Regions from separate parts of the Homo sapiens genome. Here region 2 is linked to region 1. A link means that fine-mapping ties the variant in region 1 to the expression of a gene that starts in the linked region. Tissue or cell type: fibroblasts. Region 1 holds a variant in brackets; the other region holds the start of a gene. All regions are shown on one strand. Distances are from middle to middle.

What was found. PIP is the estimated chance that this variant, and not a neighbour inherited with it, causes the effect.
Region 2: ITGA4 starts here. The variant in region 1 is fine-mapped to the expression of ITGA4 in fibroblasts (GTEx, PIP above 0.99).

What each region holds. Positions count from the first base shown.
Region 1 is chr2:181,270,774-181,278,882 of GRCh38, forward strand. All of the region lies in intron 3 of LINC01934 (long intergenic non-protein coding RNA 1934), which reads left to right. Among named protein-coding and RNA genes, the nearest start is that of MIR4437, 31 kb to the right of the region's middle. The variant G/T (reference allele first, on the strand shown) is at 3,329.
Region 2 is chr2:181,452,516-181,460,624 of GRCh38, forward strand. ITGA4 (integrin subunit alpha 4) reads left to right here and starts at 4,871. Exons shown (of 28, transcript NM_000885.6): 1 at 4,871-5,336; 2 at 5,681-5,802. The coding sequence starts at 5,140. RefSeq lists enhancers at 4,378-4,487, 5,208-5,397, 5,458-5,507, 5,868-5,917 and a silencer at 4,668-5,057.

The DNA of each region.
Region 1 (8,109 bases):
GTGTGTAAGCTATAAGTGCTAAGAATGTCCCACGGTGGGGAGTCATATAGCTTCACCTCCTAAAGGCTCTCAAAGAGACAGCTGCATGTTTTTTAAACAAAATAAATGGATTTGTATACTCCACTACTCCAGAGTTAGCAATTACTTTGAGTTCTTCATTAAAAATGCATATAAGTGAAGACATAATTAGGAAGATTTAGAAATCTTTGTGTTTTCTGTAGTTATTTAATGTTTTGCAAAAGGAATACTGTCAAAAAAATTTACCGTTTCTCAATGTTAATTTTGAAAGTGGCTTAGTAAGGGATAGTTGAACCAAACCACGGCATTGTTTTAGGGTGGATATCAGGTTGTTTTTCTTGGTGAGTGATTTCCTCGCCTATCATAAATTAGTATTTTCAGCTTCTGAGATTTCTCAAAGAATTGAACAACAGAATATTTATTTAAAGTGATATCTTTCAAATTAGAGCTTTCTAATTATGTGGGGGAAACCAGAAATTTGATAAATGTGCACAATTGTACAATACTGAATATTTTTAAAAGATAGTCAGAATTCTTTCTTATTAATTTTCACCTTGCATTTTAACACATTTGGCTTCTTTTATTGTGGTGTCTAGCATTATCTTCCATAGAGAAATGCACTTCCAGGAATGCTTCAGCCTGTGTGGGTACATTTAAAGTTACCTGATAATGATGATGAGATGAATTCATGCAGTAATTAGAAGAAAGATAGCTTGAGGCACCTAAATTATGTGGCTCCAACTGGCCTTCTTTTGGAAAACAGCTAAAAAAGGTTATCATCTTCATTTTGTGAATGTTTTTCATTTAAAAGGAAAACAATGCTCATAAAAGTTTTAATATTATAGACTAGAAGAAGAGCGAACTATTTAAATACAAGTTCCTTTAATTTTCAGGTATATTTATTTTGGTTTCCTTCTGGACGCTGGTGAATGATGGTTATTGTTTTCACACAATGGTATCATATGTATGTGACTTCTGACCCTGGAGACAAACCCTCCCCACACACACACACACTAACAAGGGACCCACACAGTTTTTTTCTCCAATCCCAAGGAATCTCTCCTACCCCTCTTAGTCTTCTCAGAGCCATCTACCTCTTTCCTCCCCTCCCCATCACCCAGCAGAATCTTTAGGGAGAGAAGGAAAGGGTTTCAAGTATCTCTAAGCAAGGAATTTAGAAATCTGCTTAGGCTGGGCACAGTGGCTCACACCTGTAATCCCAGCACTTTGGGAGGCCGAGGCAGGTGGATCACCTGAGGTCAGTAATTCAAGACCAACCTGGCAACACAGTGAAACCCCGTCTCTACTAAAAATACAAAAATTAGCCAGACATGGTGATGTGTGCCTGTAATCCCAACTACTTGGGAGTCTGAGGCAGGAGAATCACTAGAACCCAGGAGATGGAGGTTACAGTGAGCCAAGATCGCACCATTGCACTCTAGGCTGGGCAACAAGAGCGAAACTCTGTCTCAGAAAAACAAAAAAGAAAAGAAAAGAAATCTGCTTAGCAGCTGAAAATCTGAGGGCAGAAGAAAGGAAAAATACAGTCATGTGCTGCATATCAATGTTTCGGTCAACAACGAACTGCATATACAATGGCAGTCCCCTAAGATTATAATGGAGCTGAAACATTTCTATCACTAGGGACATGGTAGCCTCATAGTACAACACATTACTCAAGTGTTTGTGGTGATGCTAGTGTAAACAAACTTATTGCCATACCAGTAGTATAAAAGTCTAGCACATTTAATTATGCATAGTATATAATACTTAATAATGATAATAAAATGTTAGGTTGTTGGCTTATGCATTTATTATGCTTTTTATCATTATTAGCATGTACTGCTTTTATTTATTTAAAAATAGTTAACTGTAAAACAGCCTCAGGCAGGTCCTTCAGGAGGCATTCCAGAAGAAGAAGGCATTGTTATCATAGGAGATGACAGCTCCATGCATGTTATTGCTCCTGAAGACCTTCCAGGGGGACAAGAGGTGGAGGTGGAAGATAGTGATATTGATGATCCTGACCCCATGTAGGCCTAGGCTAACGTGTTTGTTTTTGTCTTCATTTTAAATGAAAAGTTTAAAAGTATAAAGATGAAATTTTAAAAATTGAAAGAAGCTTATAGAAAAGATATAAATAAAATATTTTTGTATACCTATACAATGTGTTTTGTTTTAAGTTATGTTATTACAAAAGAGTCAAAAGGTTTTAAAAATTACAGTTTATTTAAAACTTAGGGTAAGCTGAGGTTCATTTATTAGTGAAGAAAGTTTTTAAAAATAATGTAGTGTAGCCTAAGTGCACAGTGTTTATTAGGTCTACAGTAGTGTACAGTAATATCCTAGGCTTTTACATTCACTCATCACTCACTCTCTCACTCACCCAAAACAACTTCTAGTCCTGCAGGCTGCATTCAGGGGTAAGTGTCCTATGCAGGCATACCATTTTTAAATCTTTCATATCATATTTTCACTGTACCTCTTCAATATTTAGCTATATTTAGATACATAAATACTTACCATTGTGTTAAAATTGCCTACATTATTCAATACAGTAACATGCTGGACAAGTTTGCAGCCAAAGGAGCAATAGGCTATACTGCATAGTCTAGGTGTATATAGGCCATATCATCTAGGTTTGTCTAAGAATACTCTATGATATTTGCACAATGATGAAGTCACCTAACAATGCATTTCTCAGAACATATCCCCATGGCTGCCTGACTGTATGTGAAAAAAAAAATGATTCAGTAAAATTTTTTAGAATATACTGTTCTCTTTTGTCCCCACCTATGATATTTTACTATGAAGTTTTCATCTTCTAATGCAGCATATCAGTAACAGCCTCTCAACCCATTTTCCCTCTTTCTTACCTTTTTGGGAGTCACAGGCTTCGGCTGGATGGAGTTCAGGGAGACAGAGCTCTGGCCAACCCCCAAAGCAGAACCTATGCAGGAGGGTATGGTGTCCACATTGCCTCATCCGAGGCAAAACTACAGCTATGTCAGGAGGGCATGGTAACACCTCAGTAATACGTTATATCTTCCTCACCACCTTGCTAAAGAGAAGCCAGTTTTAGACACAGTGATATGTAAGTGCTTCTTTTTTATAATTTGGTGAGGATCACCTTACTAAAGTGAGGATTTACTCACTTTGGCAATGTAACACGTTTATTAATTTTTTAAGCACAGAAAACTAATTTAAAAAATTTTCTTACCTTTAAGAATACAGATCAAGGTTTCAAAAACATTTTCAGTTGGAAATCTTTGGGTAGGAAAACTGCAGTAATGAGCAAAAGGGATAAAAA[G/T]GTAAAACATGTGCAAAACAGATGTTGCACCTAATTTCATGCCAGAACAAATTAAAAATCAGAATCTTGCTTTGTGATTTAGACGATGGACAATCTATACAGATGTGTGTAGGCTGAAAAAAATTCTCCTTGTGAAACTGGACATTTTTAAATTATGAGAACCTACTTTCTAAAAGCAACTGGGATCAATTACTAAAACAGAAATCTCTTCTTTTGTTTGGAGATTGTCAACAGTATCCAAACCTTGACATTAGATCAGCACCACATGGAATGAAAATAATTTTGAGGTTCATGCATCAAATGTAAAAACATGATTTAAAAATTTGAGAACATTTTCATAAAGAGTAAGATCCATATAATATGTGGTAATTTAAAATGTATTAAAACACACGAATTGGGCATCAATTAAGTTAGAAAGAACTGTGTTAGAACACCAGGCAGGTGGTCAAAATGGTAATGAAAAGAAATAAAAACACAGACAGTATGGAAGAGGCAGCCTGTAAACACCAAAACGGTGTCAGAGTCACAGAGTCACTGCCTGGTAGAGATGCTTGCAGGTTTTTTTTTTAATGTAATTTAAGTATTTCCACCCCCACGAGGAGATTTTAATGTAGTTATGATACATTTGAATTAATATCTTAGAGATTTCAAGTATCTTCTTCATAACGATCATCATTAGTCAAGAATAGAAGTTTTTAGATTTGAGGTCTATTTGCTTTCCAGAGGATCTGTAGATGGCTACAGAGGGTCTCTGACTCCTTTACAATTGTATGAAATCATCTATATATATATATATATATATATATATATATATATATATATATATATATATAGAGAGAGAGAGAGAGAGAGAGAGAGAGAGAGAGAGAGAGAGTACATAACTTTCATACATTCTTATGAGGATTCCATGACTTCTCAAACATTAAGAAACTATTGGAAAAAGCAGAGCTCTACTAACAGGAGACATGTCGATTTATCTTACATAAAAATGACCCGTACAACCCAGGAAAGCTTTGCAAACAGCCAAAATGTAAAACAAATTAAATGTTGTGTTTATCCCTTCAGAATAGTGCAGCACAACAACTCCAGTCATACAGTTTTTATTTACATGAATATTTTAGAAATCCAGCTATTTGTCATTAGACACTCTCTCTTTATAATTTGAAAAATTTCAAGAGCCATGGGAACTAACCATAGGTTATATTATGTTGTATATTACTGGCAAGTACTCAATAAAGAGCTGGCAAGAGACAGTAAATGAAAAATAAATATGTGGCTCAATCTGGTCAAGGGAAAATAACACAGATAACAAGGAGGGATTAGGTCAAGCCCATATTGTGGGTTGTAAAGCACCTGATTTCATGTAATTCAACTTATCAATATTCATGAGCACTTATGGTATGCAAAACACTGTGTTTCTGGTGCGAAAAAAAAACTAAACTTGAAACTTAGTAATGTTATAATTTTTCTTGTTTTAACCCAAGAATAATTTGTCAAATCAATGAGGAAGTTATGATTTGGGCTTTGTTGGTTTTTCACCAATAAGAGGATGATAGCAAGCAAGAACCACAGTGTGGTGGATATACATGATGTTGAGTTAACTAAGCTGGAAGGGTATTTCCCTCTATTCTTTGCCTGCGTACTTCTGGGTTAATGTAAGGTGCAAGAGACACAGTGCATAAGATGTGCACTAACCCTAACCCTAACCCTAACCCTAACCCTAACCCTAACCCTAACCCTAACCCTAACCCTAACCCGGGTTAATGTGAGGTGCAAGAGACACAGTGCATAAGATGTGGTAGGTGGAAGTGAAGTAGAAAGCATATTCTTTTATGCTGGGAAGGTCACTTGAGGGCACTGCTCTGTTTGCAGCCCTCTAGTGTTGCTGTTTGTCTGAGGGCTCACCTTATTGGTGCTGAGCAGTGGCGGGCCTGCAGCTCCTCCAGCTCCTGGCAAGGCCTGCAGCTTCTGATTCCCAAGTAAGGTGCATGTTGAGCTCTGTGATAATAAGCTCCAGCTTTTTCCACACTAGTTTATTAAAATTTATAATGCAGAAGGCATTTTTAAGTAGTTTGCTGCTTGTCTGAGCTTAGGGAGTAATCAGAAATAACACAAACTCTTATGAATCAGTTGCAGTTTCCATCACAGAACAGTCACAGCATTGGAGAAGTTGGAGGTCATGAGAAGCTGGCCTCAGAACCAGTTTATCCTTGTCTTCCCCTCTCCATTGAGGTCCATCTTTCCTTACCGCTGCCTACCCATTTTTTTTTTCTATGTCACTCATAATGGTTCTTTTCTAATTGATGTCATATACCAATGTATACCCAAATAACCTGACAGATATACATAGAAAAAGGATTTTAAATTAGGGGATCAATTGTTGATGTCAGAAGCAATATTTTTGCACTTTTTCAAACTCAATGCAACCTAAATCGTTCCCATGCTGGTGTATTAAAATTTGTAATGCAAAAAAGCATTTTTAAGTAGTTTTGTACTCTCAGGGGCATAATAAATTATCAGAAATAACAAAAACTCTTATAAATCAATTGTAGTTTCCATCACTTTACATAATATATTCTTTCTAATAACAACTAGTAGAGCAAAAACGTACTTTCTGCAGAAAAAGTAGAGAAAGGGAAAATCCAGGATCTCACTGAACTCATTCTTTGGCTTCTTTTTATTTCTGGAATTTGACTAGAAAGAATATTGATCTTTTACAGTGAAAAAAAAAAAAAAAAGAAAAGAAAAAGAAAAAGAAAAAAAATCACATCACATTTTAAATGTATTTGGTGCCAAGCTATCATTTATGGAAATAGATAACTGTTTCATAGTTAGTGGAAGCCGCTTACCTACTTTTGCAAATAGTAGTAGTAGTTACTAGATACCACATTGGCCCAGTAAAAGAGAGTTTAGGGAAAGAATCCTGGACTGATTTGAGAGTCATTAGGTCTTATAGAAAGATATCTTACAAGAAAAAATCATCAACTCAAATTAGATTGAATTAAAGAGGAGAATTTATTGGGATGCATAATTTTTAAAATACAACCCAAGAGTAGAGATATAGCTCTTTATCTTTCTTTTTCTGTCTGAATCCCCACCCTCATCTTTGTCTCTCTCGCTCCTCTCTCTCTTACTCTCCCTGTCTCCTATCCACCCCTTTCTCCCTTTTTACCCCTCTCCTTCTCTGTTTCCCTCCCTTCCTCTATCTTTCTCTTGATAGTTCAGGGTGCATGTGGCACCCACTCCTAGCTTACATAGCCTTCCAGCTTGAGTGCCACTGACCAACTAGCTAGTGTCTCTTCACCCAATTACTAGAAATATTCATTGTTATAATTCAGCCAATGGATTGACTATGCAAGGGGAGAGTTTCCACTTACAGTCGGATCAGCTATGGGCAGGGAGCAAAGTACAAAAATGGCTACTAAAGACAGTGAGTGACCCTTCTCGAAGGAGAAGTGGGATGGGCAGACACCCTGAGATATTTTCCACTTTACAATATTTGACTCTTCACCTAGTGGAAAGCAGCTGGATTCAATTGCTTTTTTTTTTTTTTTTTTTTGAGACGCTGTCTTTCTCTGTCGCCCAGGCTGGAGTGCAGTGGCGCGATCTCGGCTCACTGCAAGCTCCGCCTCCCGGGTTCACGCCATTCTCCTGCCTCAGCCTCCCGAGTAGCTGGGACTACAGGTGCCCGCCACCACGCCCGGCTAATTTTTTTGTATTTTTAGTAGAGACCGGGTTTCACAGTGTTAGCCCGGATGGTCTTGATCTCCTGACCTTGCGATACGCCTGCCTCGGCCTCCCAAAGTGCTGGGATTACAGGCATGAGCCACCGCACCCGGCCTCAATTGCTATTCTTAAGCAAGAAGCAAGTAACTCTTGGTGCTTCAGTTCCATCACGTTAATTTATGTAGAAAACCTATTTCTACTCTGGAGCCTATTTTTGAAAGCATGTAGTCTTTTAATGATAAGTACTATATAAATATTAGTTATGGCCATTATAAGTCTTTTAATTTTTTTTTTGTCTTTAAGGTCCAATTATTTTTTAAAAAGTATTTGTTCTAGCCAGGCGCGGTGGCTCACACCTATAATCCTTGCACTTTAGGTGGCTGAGGAGGGCAGATTGCTTGGGCTCAGAAGTTGAAGACTAGCCTGGGCAACCTGGCAAAACCCCATCTCCACAGAAAAATGCAAAACTTAGCCAGGCATGGTGGCACAAGCCCGTAGTCCCAGCTACCTGGGGGGTTGAGGCAGGAGGTCGCTTGAACCTGGGAGGTTGAGGCTGGAGTGAGCCTAGATGGAACCTCTGCATTTCAGCCTGGGGGACAAAGTGAGATCTCAAAAAAATGTATATATATGTATTTGTTCTAGATAACTGTTTGGTCTCCTTATCAGTCTGAAATAAGGGGTTCAGACTCCCATTCTCAAGGTATGATCGCGATAAAAATGTGACAATAATTTTGAGAGATCTTATGGTGTATGTCATCCCCCGGAGGTTGTGCTCTTCTTTCTGAATAAGAGGAAAATGTTATGTTCCCTGAATGTTTATGCAAATAAAAGATTTATTTTAACATTGAACCATAAACAAAATAAATAAGACATTTCTGATATATGAAAAATATCACAGTGGGAGTGAGAAATTATGTACAAAAAGCAAAATGAAATTGCAGAATGCTGTAAGTAGAAGGGGCTTTGGGGAGCATTTAGAGATTAAATGATCCAATCCAACCCTTTTAATTTCCAGGTTAAGAAATTGAAGGTTAGGGGAGATTAGGCAGCTTTCT
Region 2 (8,109 bases), 180 kb after region 1:
GAGGTGATATCTCATTGTGGTTTTGATATTCATTTTTCTAATGATTAGTGATGTTGTACATGTTTTCTTATACCCGTTTGCCATTTGTATATCTTCTTTTGAGAAATATCTGTCGAGATCTTTTGCCAATTTTGAAATTACATTCTTTGTTAGGTTTTAGTTTTGTTGCTATTGAGTTGTTTGAGCTCCTTATATATTCTGGTTATTAATCCCTCATCAGATAGTGTGCCAATGTTTTCTCTCATTATGTGGGTTCTCTCTACATTTAGTTGATGTTTTCTTTGCTGTGCAGAAGCTTTTTAGCTTGATGTAATCTCATTTGTCTATTTTTGTTCAGGTTGCCTGTGCTTTTTAGGTCTTACACAAAAAAATCTTTGCCCAGACCAATATCTTAGAGCATTTCCCCAATGTTTTCTTTTAGTAATTTCATAATTTCAGGTCTATAATTCATTTTGATTTGGTTTTGGTGTATTGGTTATTTCAATAGATGCTGAGATAGCATTTGATAAAATTCAACATTCCTTTATGATAAAAATTCTCACCAAAATGGATATAGAAGGAACATACTTCAAAATAATGAAGGCCATATATGACAAACCTACAGTCAACATCATACTGAACACAGAAAAAATGAAGGCCTTTCCTCCAAGGACTGAAACAGACAAGGATACCCCCTCTTACCACTGTTATTCTACATAGTGCAGAAAGTCCTGGCCAGAGCTATCAGGCAAGAGGAAGAAAGGAAGGGTATCCAAACTGGAAAGGAAGAAGTGGTGAGAAAGTTTTAATTTTATTTTTTTGCATGTAGTTATTAAGTTTTCCTAGCACCATTTATTAAAGAGACTGTTTTTTTCCATTGTATGTTCTTTACAGCTTTGTCACAGATTAGTTGGTTGTAAGTGCATGGATTTATATGTGGATTCTCTATTCTGCTCCATTGGTCTATGTGTCTGTTTCTATGCCAATACTGTGCTGTTTTGGTTACTATAGCTTTGTAGTAAATTTTGAAGTTAGGTAGTGTGATGCCTCCAGCTTTGTTCTTTTTGCTCAGGATTGCTTTGGCTATTCAGGGTCTTTTGTGGTTTCTTATAAATTTTAGGAATTTTTCTGTTTCGTGAAGAATGTCATTTGTATTTTGATAGGAATTGCATTGAATCTGTAAATTGCTTTAGGTAGTATTGTAATTTTAACAATATTAGTTCTTCCAGTCTATCACGGAGTATATTTCTGGGTTTTTGTGTCCTCTTCGATTTCTTTTATCAGAGTTTTATTTATAGTTTTTCCTTGCATAGATATTTTACTTTTTTAGTTAAATTGATTCCTAGGTATTGTACATTTTTGTAGCTATTGTAAAAGGAACTGCTTTCTTGATTTTTATTCAGATTGTTCACTGTTGTCATATAAATGCTATTGATTTTTGTATGTTGATTTTGCATCCTGCAACTTTACTGAATCAGATCTAACAGCTTTTAGGTGGACTCTTTAGATTTTTCTAGGTATAAGATCATGTAGTCTGCAAACAAACCTAATTTGACTTCTTCCTTTCCAATTTGGATACCCTTCCTTTCTTCCTCTTGCCTGATAGCTCTGGCCAGGACTTTCTGTACTACGTAGAATAACAGTGGTGAGAGGGGGTATCCTTGTCTGTTTCAGCCCTTGGAGGAAAGGCCTTCATTTTTTCTGTGTTCAGTATGATGTTGACTGTAGGTTTGTCATATATGGCCTTCATTATTTTGAAGTATGTTCCTTCTATATCCATTTTGGTGAGAATTTTTATCATAAAGGAATGTTGAATTTTATCAAATGCTATCTCAGCATCTATTGAAATAAGTATACCGTTTCTGTTTTTGATTCTGTTAATGACTTATATTTAGATGGTATTTAAAGACATAGGAAATGGGTTAGATCTCCTAAAGAGGGAAGATGGAAAGAGAATGAAAGAGTTTCCAGAATATAGCCCTGGGGGTTTCCCGCACTTATGGCGGAGGGAAGGGAGCCATCAGAGGAAACTCAGAGTGGCCAGATAGAAAGGCAGGAAAAAGCTTAATAAGGTGGTATCATGAGAAGAGAGTCTTCCTAGAAGGAGAAATGCTTACTCTTGATAAAAACTGAAAAATAGGGTGAGTCCACATTAGAATTCTCGCTACTGGGGAGGACTTTCTACACAAGGTTAGAGATCACTTGTATTTTGTCTACTATAATTTTAGTGCATAATGCATTTTTTTGGCATATAGTGGGCACTTATATACATATTAATCTGATGACATTTAATAATTGAGTGCCCAAATATTTATGTCGAGTTGAGAGCTAGGGATAGGCATGAGTCTTTCTTAAACATCCTTCTCTTCTCCTTCCTCCACCCCCTCACTTGCCTTCAGAAGCATTGATCAGAGAGATAGCAGTATCTTCAGTTTTTTTTAAAGCAACATGAAACACACTTTATTCCTGCTAACATTAGGAAAAGCGAGCTGTTTTCCAAGCCCTGGAGGAAGGAAATTCAGCTAACTAACGTGAGGTAATGTAGGGTGGCTATTTCTTGAAAGGTAGTGAATCATAACTATAACCATACTATGGAAAAAAGTCCTGCCTTACCAACCACTCCACTGACTGCTTGTCACCAAAACTACGCTATGAAACGAATTGTGTTGAGTGGCTTTCATTGTAAAAGATTTTGGTGAAGGGAGGGAAAGAAACTGGTAGGGGTTCAGATCAGAAGATCTGGCTTTGCCAGTTTCTGGAGGGTGTCAGAATGGCTTCAACATACCTACTTCCTTGGCCTCAACTGGAGGTTTTGTAGCTGTAAACAAGAAGGATTGCATAGTTCAGAATAACGACACTGTAAGCTCATTGTGGAACTGGGTTAAAATCAGCATGTAGATCTACTAAGAAAGAAACACACTCAGCACTACTACAGAAAGAAACAGCCATGGGCCCTGATTGTTAGCTTTCTGGAAGCCATTTCATTTTTACAATAGATTTATCACACACTGTATTGACTTTTTCCAGTATAGAGTAAGAGAAAGTTAATATTCCTCATGTTTTGTCTGTTGACAGACTGAAAATAATTGCATTGAGTTTGGCTAGAATATCCTGTCATTCCATAAACATCTCAAACTCCACATGGCTAAAACTTAACCCATCCATGCCCCCATCTGCATGCACACATACATGCATATAACTTCATTTCTCAGTGTTTTTTTCTCCATGAATGGTAGCACCATTCTCTTTCAAGAAAGAGAAATACTTCCCCTTGGGATTATCCTATCTCTACTTATTGCTGCAGGGGCTTCCAAAATTAGGTTTTCTGTGTTCAGTCTTGCATTCACACTTCTGAAACCCAGAGCTGACCGAGACAAATTCTTCAACTTCCTGTCAGTCCCAACATAGATTTAAAATTCCTAACCTGGCTCATGAGGTTCACCATGTATTCCTGCTTCCCTAAGTCAGCCTCATATCACACCAACCTGTGTGTGGAGTGGCTAAATACTCTAGCCAGGCAAGCTCTCTCAGTTCTTCTACCTGGCTCCTCTGGAGCCCTCCTTATTGCTCATCCCATTCTTAGCCTGATTCAAGATTCCTGGTCCTTCAAATCTCTCTTTAAGTGTCCTTACCTGGATCTTTCTCTAGTTAGTACAAATTTTTCTATCTACCATTGGAGCGAACATTTTTTGAAACTTTGTATCAGTCCTGCCTTACTCTTGGTGGAATCCTGTGGTCCTAGTCAAGTGCCTGCTCCATGAATGTGCTGAATAAATGAATAAGCATTTTAATTGTGTATCTGTCATTAGTGTCAGATGTGTTATTTATTCCAGCATGGTTTTAGCACACAGACACACTCTTTGATGCAGACTTTTCTTTTCTTTTTACATATAGCAACAATAAAAAACTAGACTTTCATCTCCTGAAAATATCAGTCTAATAATCACCTATGGCTGTCTCTCTGGTTGCTGAAGGAAAAAAAAAAAAAAGGCAGGGCACACCTGGATTGCATTAGAATGAGACTCACTACCCAGTTCAGGTGTGTTGCGTTGTGGGTCTCCGGCACATTTCAGAGGCTCATTAGGACCCTGACCCCACACTGGGGTTTACACCCCTAAAAGCAGGTGTGTCCCGTGGCAACTGAGTGGGTGCGTGAAAAGGGGGGATCATCAATTACCAGCTGGAGCAATCCGAATCGGTTAAAGTGAATCAAGTCACAGTGCTTCCTTAACCCAACCTCTCTGTTGGGGTCAGCCACAGCCTAAACCGCCTGCCGTTCAGCCTGAGAGGCTGCTGCTAGCCTGCTCACGCATGCAGCCCGGGCTGCAGAGGAAGTGTGGGGAGGAAGGAAGTGGGTATAGAAGGGTGCTGAGATGTGGGTCTTGAAGAGAATAGCCATAACGTCTTTGTCACTAAAATGTTCCCCAGGGGCCTTCGGCGAGTCTTTTTGTTTGGTTTTTTGTTTTTAATCTGTGGCTCTTGATAATTTATCTAGTGGTTGCCTACACCTGAAAAACAAGACACAGTGTTTAACTATCAACGAAAGAACTGGACGGCTCCCCGCCGCAGTCCCACTCCCCGAGTTTGTGGCTGGCATTTGGGCCACGCCGGGCTGGGCGGTCACAGCGAGGGGCGCGCAGTTTGGGGTCACACAGCTCCGCTTCTAGGCCCCAACCACCGTTAAAAGGGGAAGCCCGTGCCCCATCAGGTCCGCTCTTGCTGAGCCCAGAGCCATCCCGCGCTCTGCGGGCTGGGAGGCCCGGGCCAGGACGCGAGTCCTGCGCAGCCGAGGTTCCCCAGCGCCCCCTGCAGCCGCGCGTAGGCAGAGACGGAGCCCGGCCCTGCGCCTCCGCACCACGCCCGGGACCCCACCCAGCGGCCCGTACCCGGAGAAGCAGCGCGAGCACCCGAAGCTCCCGGCTGGCGGCAGAAACCGGGAGTGGGGCCGGGCGAGTGCGCGGCATCCCAGGCCGGCCCGAACGCTCCGCCCGCGGTGGGCCGACTTCCCCTCCTCTTCCCTCTCTCCTTCCTTTAGCCCGCTGGCGCCGGACACGCTGCGCCTCATCTCTTGGGGCGTTCTTCCCCGTTGGCCAACCGTCGCATCCCGTGCAACTTTGGGGTAGTGGCCGTTTAGTGTTGAATGTTCCCCACCGAGAGCGCATGGCTTGGGAAGCGAGGCGCGAACCCGGCCCCCGAAGGGCCGCCGTCCGGGAGACGGTGATGCTGTTGCTGTGCCTGGGGGTCCCGACCGGCCGCCCCTACAACGTGGACACTGAGAGCGCGCTGCTTTACCAGGGCCCCCACAACACGCTGTTCGGCTACTCGGTCGTGCTGCACAGCCACGGGGCGAACCGATGGTGAGTAGAGTTGGACTGATGCGCCCTCAGCAGCTCAGAGCGGCGTGAGAATGGCGCCCTAGGGATTCCCTGCCCGATTCAAACTTTCCTCCCTCCCAAGGAGGCAGGAGGGAAACGCTGCGAGAGCCAGCTCGCTGGAAATCTGCCAGGGAAACTAACTTATCTTGGGGCGGCAGCGCCCCGGGTGCGTTATGGTGCAAGGTCTTGGAGCTTCGAGTCGGGGGTGGTGGGCGGAGGAGGAGGTGGGGAAGCTGCCCTGCTGCGGACTGCACATCTGTGGCGACAGGGAGCTCAGTGGGCAGCACAGCTCACGTCTGAGCGCACGTGCACGTGTCTCGCTTTAGGCTCCTAGTGGGTGCGCCCACTGCCAACTGGCTCGCCAACGCTTCAGTGATCAATCCCGGGGCGATTTACAGATGCAGGATCGGAAAGAATCCCGGCCAGACGTGCGAACAGCTCCAGCTGGGTGAGTTGGGTATGGGACCAGGAGTTAGTGACCTCCCGACCCCCCATGTGGACCCCACCATAGGGCAAGTCCTGGAAAGATTCACGTTGCCTGTTACTTCTGGTTTAAAGAGCATAAAGTTTTCAGTTTCAACTCCATCTCATCTTGCCTCCTTAATATAAAAGGGATTCCCTTTCTGTTAATATCGTTCTCCCTTTTCCTTATGGCAATGATTGCAGTACTCTGACAACTATGCTAGAGAAATTTCTTATGATACCTTCTCTTCATCTCTCCCCGTCTCTCCGTGTGTAAAGCACATTTTAGACTCTCTCAGCGTATTAAGGACAGGATCCAGCTAAGCCAAGACTTGAGAATTTTATTTCCATCTTTGACCTATCAACCCTCTTAAAGAACAGGCTAAGGAGCATATCAGGAATAGCAATTGGAATTGATCCCATATCCCGTCGTTTAACCTAAAGGCCTAAAAAAAAAAGTGATAGTTTTACTTACAATATACAATCTAAAAGAAAAGGAAAATTGGCATCTTCATCGTTAATGTAGTATAATTTTCCATTCCCAAAACCGTCATCCAAAACTCATGTTATATGGGTCCATCTTTTTGCAGTCATTTCTCAATGTCTCAGATTTGTGACAAGTTGAAAAATGTGTACTGATAGAGGGGAGAAGTTTCATGTTTCAAAGCCAAAGACAAGTTTGTTGCACACAGGCAAGTGGGGAAAGAGGAAGGAATATTAAATAACAAGACCTATCTTGTTCCAAAGTGTTACTGCTATATATATTGCTTAACTTTTTTCCCCTTAAAGCAACCCTGGGTCATGGTTGACATTGTTCCTAGTTTATGTATGAGGACTGTGGCTCAGAGTTGCAAATACCTTTTTAAAAGTTACTTAGCTAGTGACTGATAGGTGGGAACTAAAGTCAAACTAGGGTCTGAATGCGTCCAAAGTCTAAGCCATTTTCTTCCATGTATGTATCTTCAATGCAAATAAAATTAAGTGAATGGTTTAATATGTTGTCTGCTGAGCTGATGGGTCATCTGTAAACGGTGAATAAAATTGGTACTTCTTTATATTTCTTTGCTATAAATGGACTTTTGAGATTAGTTATTGGATCTTTAACTTCTTTTGTATTTTATAGTAGTCTTTGCTCTTTTTCAAACTGTGAAGCTGGTTCCCTTCATTCAGATGAATTCAGATAGAGTATAAACATAATGGAATTTTTACTTTTAACTCAGAGCACCTATAAAAGTCTACGAGTTGTCTGTAGCATGTAGAATAAGCCCTAGCCTCTTGTTAAGCATCCTCAATACCAGAAATCACAGTAGGAATGCATAAAACATTCACAGACCCATACATTTTGGAATGATTTTGCAAAGCATAATTTTCATTGCATGAGAGAGTTGTGGGTGAAGAATTAGGGAGTGGAGCCGACAACTTTGGTCTGCCAGAGGATCTTGGCAAGGTCTCAGGAGGGAGCAATTTTATTTCTGTTGTCCTGTCATAGTTTCCTGATCCATGACATTATAACTACTGATATTTAGTGCCTACTTCCTGTCTGGATGGACACTGAATCTATTTCTGGATGTCTGTGTTTAACTGGATAAATCATGACATAATACTGTATTAAATTTAAGATAATGCCTGTCAATGGAAGGAAAAAATTGTTTGGGCATGTGTAGCATGGGAGTTGACTGTTCTCAGAGAAATGTAAACATAGTAGATATGTCATAGATATGAATTAAATGAAGATCTTTTGGATGGATGAATGAATAAAAGTGGAGTGAAAATTTATCAACCTGACTGATGAGTAAGATAATTGATTAGAAATGATGAGCCAAACTGATTTTTAACTTTCAAAATTTTGGCCAATCTACAAGGTATTTACTGGGATGAAAGGAAAAAAGGCAAGATTCCTAGTCAGTCAATGAGTTAAAACATTAATAGTGATAGTAATGCCTTGAGTATTTGCCGAAGAGTTGACTGAAGTTATTTCTCATGTAACATTCTAAAGAATACAGATATCTTTTATTCCTCATGTAAAGAAACTGCCTCTCTATTCAGAATAAATTCAGTGGTAGCTTGAAGCTATAAAATAGGGATTGAGGCTACAGTCTAGAAATAAAACACTAAAAACAATACATTGGTAATAAAGATAATTTAGGATTCTTAGGTTTGTGGGCTATGCACTATTTTGTATGAAGAAGTTTCAAGAGTGTGTGTAAATATATATAAGCCATCTTCTGTAGAAGAGTGTGTGTGTGTGTGTGTGTGTGTGTGTGTGTGTGTGAATCTTCTGTATAAAATAGCT